2 linked regions of the Homo sapiens genome follow. The protein of the gene in region 1 interacts with the protein of each later gene in a biochemical or structural test. Each region holds a gene or a part of one and is shown on either strand. Other genes may lie near its edges. The genes, in order: LILRB2 and CD1D.

Evidence for each region.
Region 2: the proteins of LILRB2 (region 1) and CD1D form a complex in vitro, tested with the Homo sapiens proteins (one large-scale study listed by IntAct).

What each region holds. Positions count from the first base shown.
Region 1 is NC_000019.10:54,275,479-54,278,184, forward strand, and holds part of LILRB2 (leukocyte immunoglobulin-like receptor subfamily B member 2 isoform 2 precursor), read right to left. Parts: intron 2,462-2,706; coding exon 2,411-2,461; intron 2,123-2,410; coding exon of another isoform or gene 2,120-2,122; coding exon 2,072-2,119; coding exon of another isoform or gene 2,064-2,071; exon of another isoform or gene 2,058-2,063; intron 1,502-2,057; exon of another isoform or gene 1,452-1,501; coding exon 1,329-1,451; intron 979-1,328; coding exon 903-978; intron 824-902; coding exon 786-823; intron 526-785; coding exon 473-525; intron 1-472. UniProt on the Homo sapiens protein: Receptor for class I MHC antigens. Recognizes a broad spectrum of HLA-A, HLA-B, HLA-C, HLA-G and HLA-F alleles. Involved in the down-regulation of the immune response and the development of tolerance.
Region 2 is NC_000001.11:158,179,190-158,183,694, forward strand, and holds the start of CD1D (antigen-presenting glycoprotein CD1d isoform 1 precursor), read left to right. Parts: upstream 1-1,705; 5' UTR 1,706-1,912; coding exon 1,913-1,973; intron 1,974-2,265; coding exon 2,266-2,532; intron 2,533-2,842; coding exon 2,843-3,121; coding exon of another isoform or gene 3,122-3,245; intron 3,246-3,688; coding exon 3,689-3,967; intron 3,968-4,505. UniProt on the Homo sapiens protein: Antigen-presenting protein that binds self and non-self glycolipids and presents them to T-cell receptors on natural killer T-cells.

The sequences.
Region 1 (2,706 bases):
TTAAGCACGTTGCACTCCTGGACATGGCGCATTTATTTGCATTTTGTCTCCCACCATGAGGTGAGCTCAGGAGGCGGGGGCGGCTTTGCTCCCTGCTGTGTCTGCAGCTCCCATGGGGAGCCTGATCCACAGTGAGCTCCCTGGGAACACTCACTGGTTGAATGAATGAAGGGGAGCCCAGGGGACCGGGGTGGTTCATTTATTCCTCATCCTCCAGAGGCCTGGGGAGCGCTCTAACAACCAGACGGCCAAACAGAGGATGAGGAGCAGGAAGGGGACCCGGGAGGAGGCCCACGAGGTCCCAGGACAGCAGGAGAGAGTGAGGTCACAGCAGGCGGGAGGCAGCGTGCTGGACAAGGAGGGGTCCACCGTGACGATGCTGAGAGCCGGGGGAAGGAGGACAGAGAAGTCCTGCTGGATTAGATCTGGCACCAGGAGGCCTTTGGTGCCTGGGACAGGGGCGGGGTCTCACCCGAGTGTCCATCTCCACCCCATCTTCAGGCTGTGTGTCCTTCACGGCAGCATCTGCTGGGGCAGAGCAAGGGGTTCGTCTCTTGGGAAGGTTCCCTGGGACCTCTGAGTCCTGCCAGCCCCTGCCCTGCTCCCAGATGGGGCTACTGAGATGCAGGGAGGGGCTGCAATGTCCCTGAGGTCCCACAGTGTGGGGTGAGATGATCTCACCCTGAGCCCCAGACCCTTTCCAGCCGGTGCCCCTTTCCCCATTGCTACGGAAACTTCGGGGCCCCTATCTCCCTCCTGGCTGGTCACCTCTTCCTCTCACTCACAGAGGTTTTCTTCCTGGGCGTCGGCAGCTGGGCTGGACCTGGGGGAGGAATGGGAGCTTTAGGGGCAGTGTATGGGCCACGAGCAGGTGGGAGTCTGGGGTCTTCGGGCAGAATTACCTCCACTGCAGGCCTCTGTCTGTGGGCTCTGGCCCCACAGCCCCTGCAGGATGTTGGAAATCAGCCTTTCTCTGGGCTGGGGGAAGAAGGACAGAGCCTCAGCCCTGGGAACATTGGAGCCCCCTGCCCTGCACACACAGCTCGAAGGTAAGGAAGGAAACCTAAAAACACTCCTGCCTCCATGTTCCAAATGCCTCATGAGATGGACAGAGTCCGAAGGACACTTTACATTTGTAGATGGGACTGAGCCCGGAGGACACTTTATATTTGTAGATGGGACTGACGTTAAGTGCTTTCTCCATTCACCTGGTGAGAAATGCTGGAACAGTTTCTCAAAGCTGCATTTGCCCAGTGGTTTGGATTCTCTTTGGCTGTGCCCTGAGCCCACCCTCGGTCGGCCCACAGGGTTTCCCCTTCCCTACTCACTCGATGTCCAGTGTTTGCCCTGACGTCGATGTCGGAGGATGAGGAAGAGGAGGAGGAGGAGGAGGAGCAGTAGGACGACGGCCACCAAGATGCCGATCACAACCCCCAGGTGCCTTCCCAGACCTTGAGCACGATGATGTCAGGGATGGGGGTGATGTCATTGAAATGAGCGCCTACTGTGTGCAGGTGACTGCTGGACCTTCTGTTCACCACCTCCAACCCCCACAACAGTCGTGCAGCACACAAACATCCACCCCACCCACTCTACAGATGAAAAACTGACGCTCAGAGAGGGGAATCGCCTGCCCCGGGCCCCCAGCCAGGAAGCGGCAGAGCTGGGAAGGGAGCCTGGGAGTCTGACCTGCAGCCCTTGTTCCTGCACCAGAGCCGAGCCCCGGAGCTGCAGGGAAAGAGCCTTACCGTCCTGAACCACGACTCTGCTCCCCTCCCCTGCCCCAGGTCACCGTCTCTGCTGCAGGTGGGACGGGACAGGCCCCCGCGGAATCGAGTCTTGGAGTCTTCCCTGAGGGGCCTCCTCTCCCAGGAGGTCACAGCTGGGAGTGAGAGCTGAAAGGAACTTTCCCACCTGCAGGCCTCTCTCCTTTACACTTGGAGAAACTGAGGCCCAGGCAGGGGAGGAGCCTGTCTACATCACCACCTCCAGAGGAGCCTGAACCTAGGACAGAACCCACCCCTGCCTCCCCGGGACCCCGCCCACCTCCCACTCAGAGCCCCTCACTCACCACTTTGGGGATCCGACCCAGTGGGGGTGAGGGGCTGGTCCTCAGGGCCTGCTGGGTCAGGACGGGGAGGTGAGGGCTGGGGCTGCCCTGCTCCCCACATCAGCCCGGCTGCTCCTCCCCCAGGCTGGGCCCCAACATTTCTCTCTGCCTTGACCCCCCACCCCTCACCAGCCCAGCCTCAGAGCCCTGGGGACCCTGTGGCCCCTCCTCTGGCTCTGCCCAGCTCCCTGGACAGAAGCCCTTGATTGAGTCCCTGAAGGGAATGGGATCCTCCTGGACACTCAAAGCTGCCCTGGGGGTCGCTGCGCTCCCTTCGAGCCAGAGGCCTCAGGGACTCACCAGGTGTGGAGATGGGACCGGTGGGTGGGGGGCTGGAACCCATGGAGGGTCCTGGGTGAAAGAATGAGAGGAGGGTGAGGAGCTGGGGCTTTCCTGAAGTCTCCACCTCAAACCAAATTTCTCTACATGGGCCCTGTGGCCTCCCCAGGCCCCTCCCTCCACCCGCCTCTCCTGTCCATGATGCTGGCGATGCCGCTGAGTGTGCGCAGGCCTGGGAGGGCCTGTTGTCCTCCTTCCCTCTGAGGGTGAGTCTCCCACTGGCTGAGCCCCGCTCAGACCCCCGCTCACTCCATCCC
Region 2 (4,505 bases), on another chromosome or scaffold:
TTTTTATTTCTCATAGCTTCCCTCCTATCCATTATTTAGGCAATTTTGTATCCAAATTTAATAATTTAACACCTTATTTGTTACAAGAACACGTTACTATGTTATTTTAAGCTTTTTTGGGCAAATTACACATAATTAGATAGGCTGGGTTAGGGCTGTCTACAAGATCCCAGCCTAGAGTGTGGTGCAGTAGCCTATTTTCTCTAGGACTCTTGCTGCAACAGGATATGGGAGAAGGGAAACATTAACGTTAGCAGAATGGGAGGAATCAGATTATGGAGACATGATCCTTGCCTTCTGGCACCTCTCCAGCTGATTTAGAAGAGGACACAGAGGGAGACAGACATATGGCCATTTCTATAATTATAAACTCTGCTACATGCTGAGAGGATGGCTTCTCAAAGCCAGTTAGTGTACAAGCAGTGGAGGTTGGGACTGCCCTACTTCTCCTGCCTAGGGTCACACAGTCTGGCAGATCTGGAAAGACTTCCCTGAGAAAGTGACCTTGGAACTGATACCTTAGTGGAAATAACTAGGCATTGGGAGGGGGTGAGGTGAGGAGAAGGTCAAGAGCTTTCATGTAGAGGGAACTTTGTGCAGAGACCTTAGTCAGGAAGAGGTTTTGCATAGTGGAGGAACTGAAAGCTAACAGCCAGGCTACAGTACAGAGCAAATGATGCTGGGGTGTGAGGTGATGTCAAAAGGTAGACACCAGGGCTAGAGGGCGCATAATCTTGCAGGCCGTGCTAATGATTTTGTTTTCTACCCAAGAATGCTACTTCAGGAGATCAGTCAAAAGGTTAGGGTGATGGTGACGGTGGAAATATAGAAAAAGGAATTTATTCAAGAGGTATTCAAAAAGAAGTGAAATAGAGATGAGTTGGAGATAGATTGGATAAAAAGAGTGAGGGAGAGGGAGGTGTCAGGCTGCAGCCCAGGTTCTGAGTTGCCAAAGAGGAGTCTTTTCCTCCAGGTGAGCTAAGGCTTAGAACCACGATTTTTGGTCACTTTTTCTTATTTTCAGTGTGAGAAGTGGCGAGTTGGCTGTCCAGGTACACACTGTCATCTTACACTTACTGTTTAAGACAGAGGCGCATATTTGGAAAGTGAATGAGTCAGGAGCCAGAGGAGAAGGTATGCCGGCAGAGCCTAGGGCGGAGAGGAGGAAGAGAGTCTGGGGGCGCGTCCCCAAAAAGGAGACAGGGAAGACAGAGCAGAGGCCGGGGAGGGGAGAGCAAGGACCATGACAGGAGGAAAGAGAGGCTAGGGAACACTGAGGTGGAGGAATCCTGGGATATGACAGTTGTAAAGAATTGTAGCCAACCTAATCCAGTTCTCTCAATGTGCAACTGAGGAAATTAATTTTCATGCGTTTACTTTATTGTAAATGTGGTACTTGCACTTGAGAAATTTTGGAAAACATAAAGATGTAAAGCAAATTAAGATCACTCATAGTCTTTCCACCTAGAGACATGTACTGCTAAAGCAAGGACTTTGATCCTTTTTTCCCTTTGCATTTTTACCATGGTTGGAATTGTAACACAGACACAACCTTATGTCCTGCTTCCAAAACATAAATAATGGTTGTAAAGCGTCCCACACGTTGACCCAAAGTCTCCTTTGAAACAGGAAATTGAGACACGCCGGTTGTGAAACCTACTGAAGTGAGCGGCGGCGCCAGGATTCCTGGGACCCCGACCTCTTTGCAGCTCGCACAGCTAAGGGCGAGGGCGCCCTTCGGCAGAAGCAGCAAACCGCCGGCAAGCCCAGCGAGGAGGGCTGCCGGGGTCTGGGCTTGGGAATTGGCTGGCACCCAGCGGAAAGGGACGTGAGCTGAGCGGCGGGGGAGAAGAGTGCGCAGGTCAGAGGGCGGCGCGCAGCGGCGCTCCGCGAGGTCCCCACGCCGGGCGATATGGGGTGCCTGCTGTTTCTGCTGCTCTGGGCGCTCCTCCAGGCTTGGGGAAGCGCTGAAGGTGGGTGGAACGAGGGCGCTTGAGTGCACTCGCGGGAGGGCGGAGAGAGGGAGCTGGGTAGGGACGGGGAGGGCAACGCCTGATGGGGACTGGTGAGACCCGGGACGCACTGGCGCGATCTAGGTAGAAAACTCGCTGCTCCCTGGCTCCGGGGAGAGGCAGCGCGGCACAGAGTTCGCTGGCATCAGCCGCCTCCTGAAGCTCATCTCCTCTTGTTTCTTTCTTCCTTCTCTTTATGCTGGCTGCTCTCCCGGCCACTTGCTACACGCCTCCAATCTTCATTCTCTCCCAGTCCCGCAAAGGCTTTTCCCCCTCCGCTGCCTCCAGATCTCGTCCTTCGCCAATAGCAGCTGGACGCGCACCGACGGCTTGGCGTGGCTGGGGGAGCTGCAGACGCACAGCTGGAGCAACGACTCGGACACCGTCCGCTCTCTGAAGCCTTGGTCCCAGGGCACGTTCAGCGACCAGCAGTGGGAGACGCTGCAGCATATATTTCGGGTTTATCGAAGCAGCTTCACCAGGGACGTGAAGGAATTCGCCAAAATGCTACGCTTATCCTGTGAGCTGAGGGATAGGATCCTGGGCCGGTACCCAAGGGGAGAGAATGGCCACAGAAACTCAACTGGGAGACTGTGGCACCACCTGATGAGATTCTCTGCTCTGTCCACCCTCTTCTGATTTCCCTTCTACCTGGAGATGTCCCAGGCTTTGACTCCTCAAAGTGTCCCTCGTTCCTGCCTACTCCAGGTCACTTACTTTCCTTTCCCTGAAGTCTGGGTCCCCATTATAACCTGCACATCAATTTCTTCTCTTTCATCTCTCCCAGTCTTTTAAACCCTTCTTTGATCTTTCTCCATTCCTCTCCACAGATCCCTTGGAGCTCCAGGTGTCCGCTGGCTGTGAGGTGCACCCTGGGAACGCCTCAAATAACTTCTTCCATGTAGCATTTCAAGGAAAAGATATCCTGAGTTTCCAAGGAACTTCTTGGGAGCCAACCCAAGAGGCCCCACTTTGGGTAAACTTGGCCATTCAAGTGCTCAACCAGGACAAGTGGACGAGGGAAACAGTGCAGTGGCTCCTTAATGGCACCTGCCCCCAATTTGTCAGTGGCCTCCTTGAGTCAGGGAAGTCGGAACTGAAGAAGCAAGGTCAGCCTGCCTTCCTTACTCCCTGCATTCCACTTCAGGGCTCCAAACGGGCTTTTCCATTCCAGGGTTCTCATCCCTTTGAGCATTCAAAGAAGAGGAAGGCCCAGGAGGGGCTGGATAAGGGGTGAGGGTATTTATTCATTTCACAGACATCAACTGAGCACCTCTTGGGTTCTATGAATTCAATTAATGAACAACTGGGGGTGAAAGGTGTCAGGCAGTTAGTTAGGATCCCTGCTTGGTAGGGGGATGTTAATTAATGCAATGCTTGAAATAGGCTACATATGTTACTTCAAAACAAAGGGTGTTATAGGGGAACAGACAAGGGGCATTCATAGGAGGCTGGGACCAGAGAAGAAGAAGGAGTATCAGGGCAGGCTCCCTGAAGAAGGTGGGACAAATGGATTGAAAGTTGTGGGAGACTTCATTTCCAGAAGTGAACATGTCAGGGGCATACAGGAAGGAGGGAAATAAAGACCTGAAAGTCAAAAAGGATGATATGAGGCCTGGAGCCTCTAATGCAGAGTTTTCACTTTAAGATCCCCCCCATTCCCTTGTTGGATACAGTGAAGCCCAAGGCCTGGCTGTCCCGTGGCCCCAGTCCTGGCCCTGGCCGTCTGCTGCTGGTGTGCCATGTCTCAGGATTCTACCCAAAGCCTGTATGGGTGAAGTGGATGCGGGGTGAGCAGGAGCAGCAGGGCACTCAGCCAGGGGACATCCTGCCCAATGCTGACGAGACATGGTATCTCCGAGCAACCCTGGATGTGGTGGCTGGGGAGGCAGCTGGCCTGTCCTGTCGGGTGAAGCACAGCAGTCTAGAGGGCCAGGACATCGTCCTCTACTGGGGTGAGAAAAAGCTGGGCCCAAGCTGGAAATGGCAGGAGGTGGTCCTCAGGCATAGAGGGAGGCACTGGGGTGGGATGTGGCTTGATATACCCAGGTTAGAGGAGTTTCAGAGATGAGGCCCCCAGTAAAAGGATAGAGAGAGGGGTTCCAGACACAGGAAGGAGGGAAATAAAGACCTGAAAGTCTAAAAGGATTGAAATAGTGCTCTCTATATACAAGAAGAAACAAGACTACAAAACTCAGGGATCCAGAAGTAGGCAGCGAATAAACAATCCCAGGACGATTCATTCCTTGGCTTAAAGGGAGCCAGGCCTTTGGGAAGGCAGGTTAGCAAAGATAGCTTGGTTGGTTGAGTGCTCCCTGTGTAGGGGCCAATGAATCTGCATATAATATCTCATCTCATCATTCACAGTTTTCTTTGAAGCAAGTACTGCTCTTTTCGTTATATAGATGAGGAAATGAAGGCGGAGATAGGTTAACTGCCCGGAGCCACATAGAAAGTGGACGGGCTGGATTTAGATTCAGGTCTGCCTTGCTA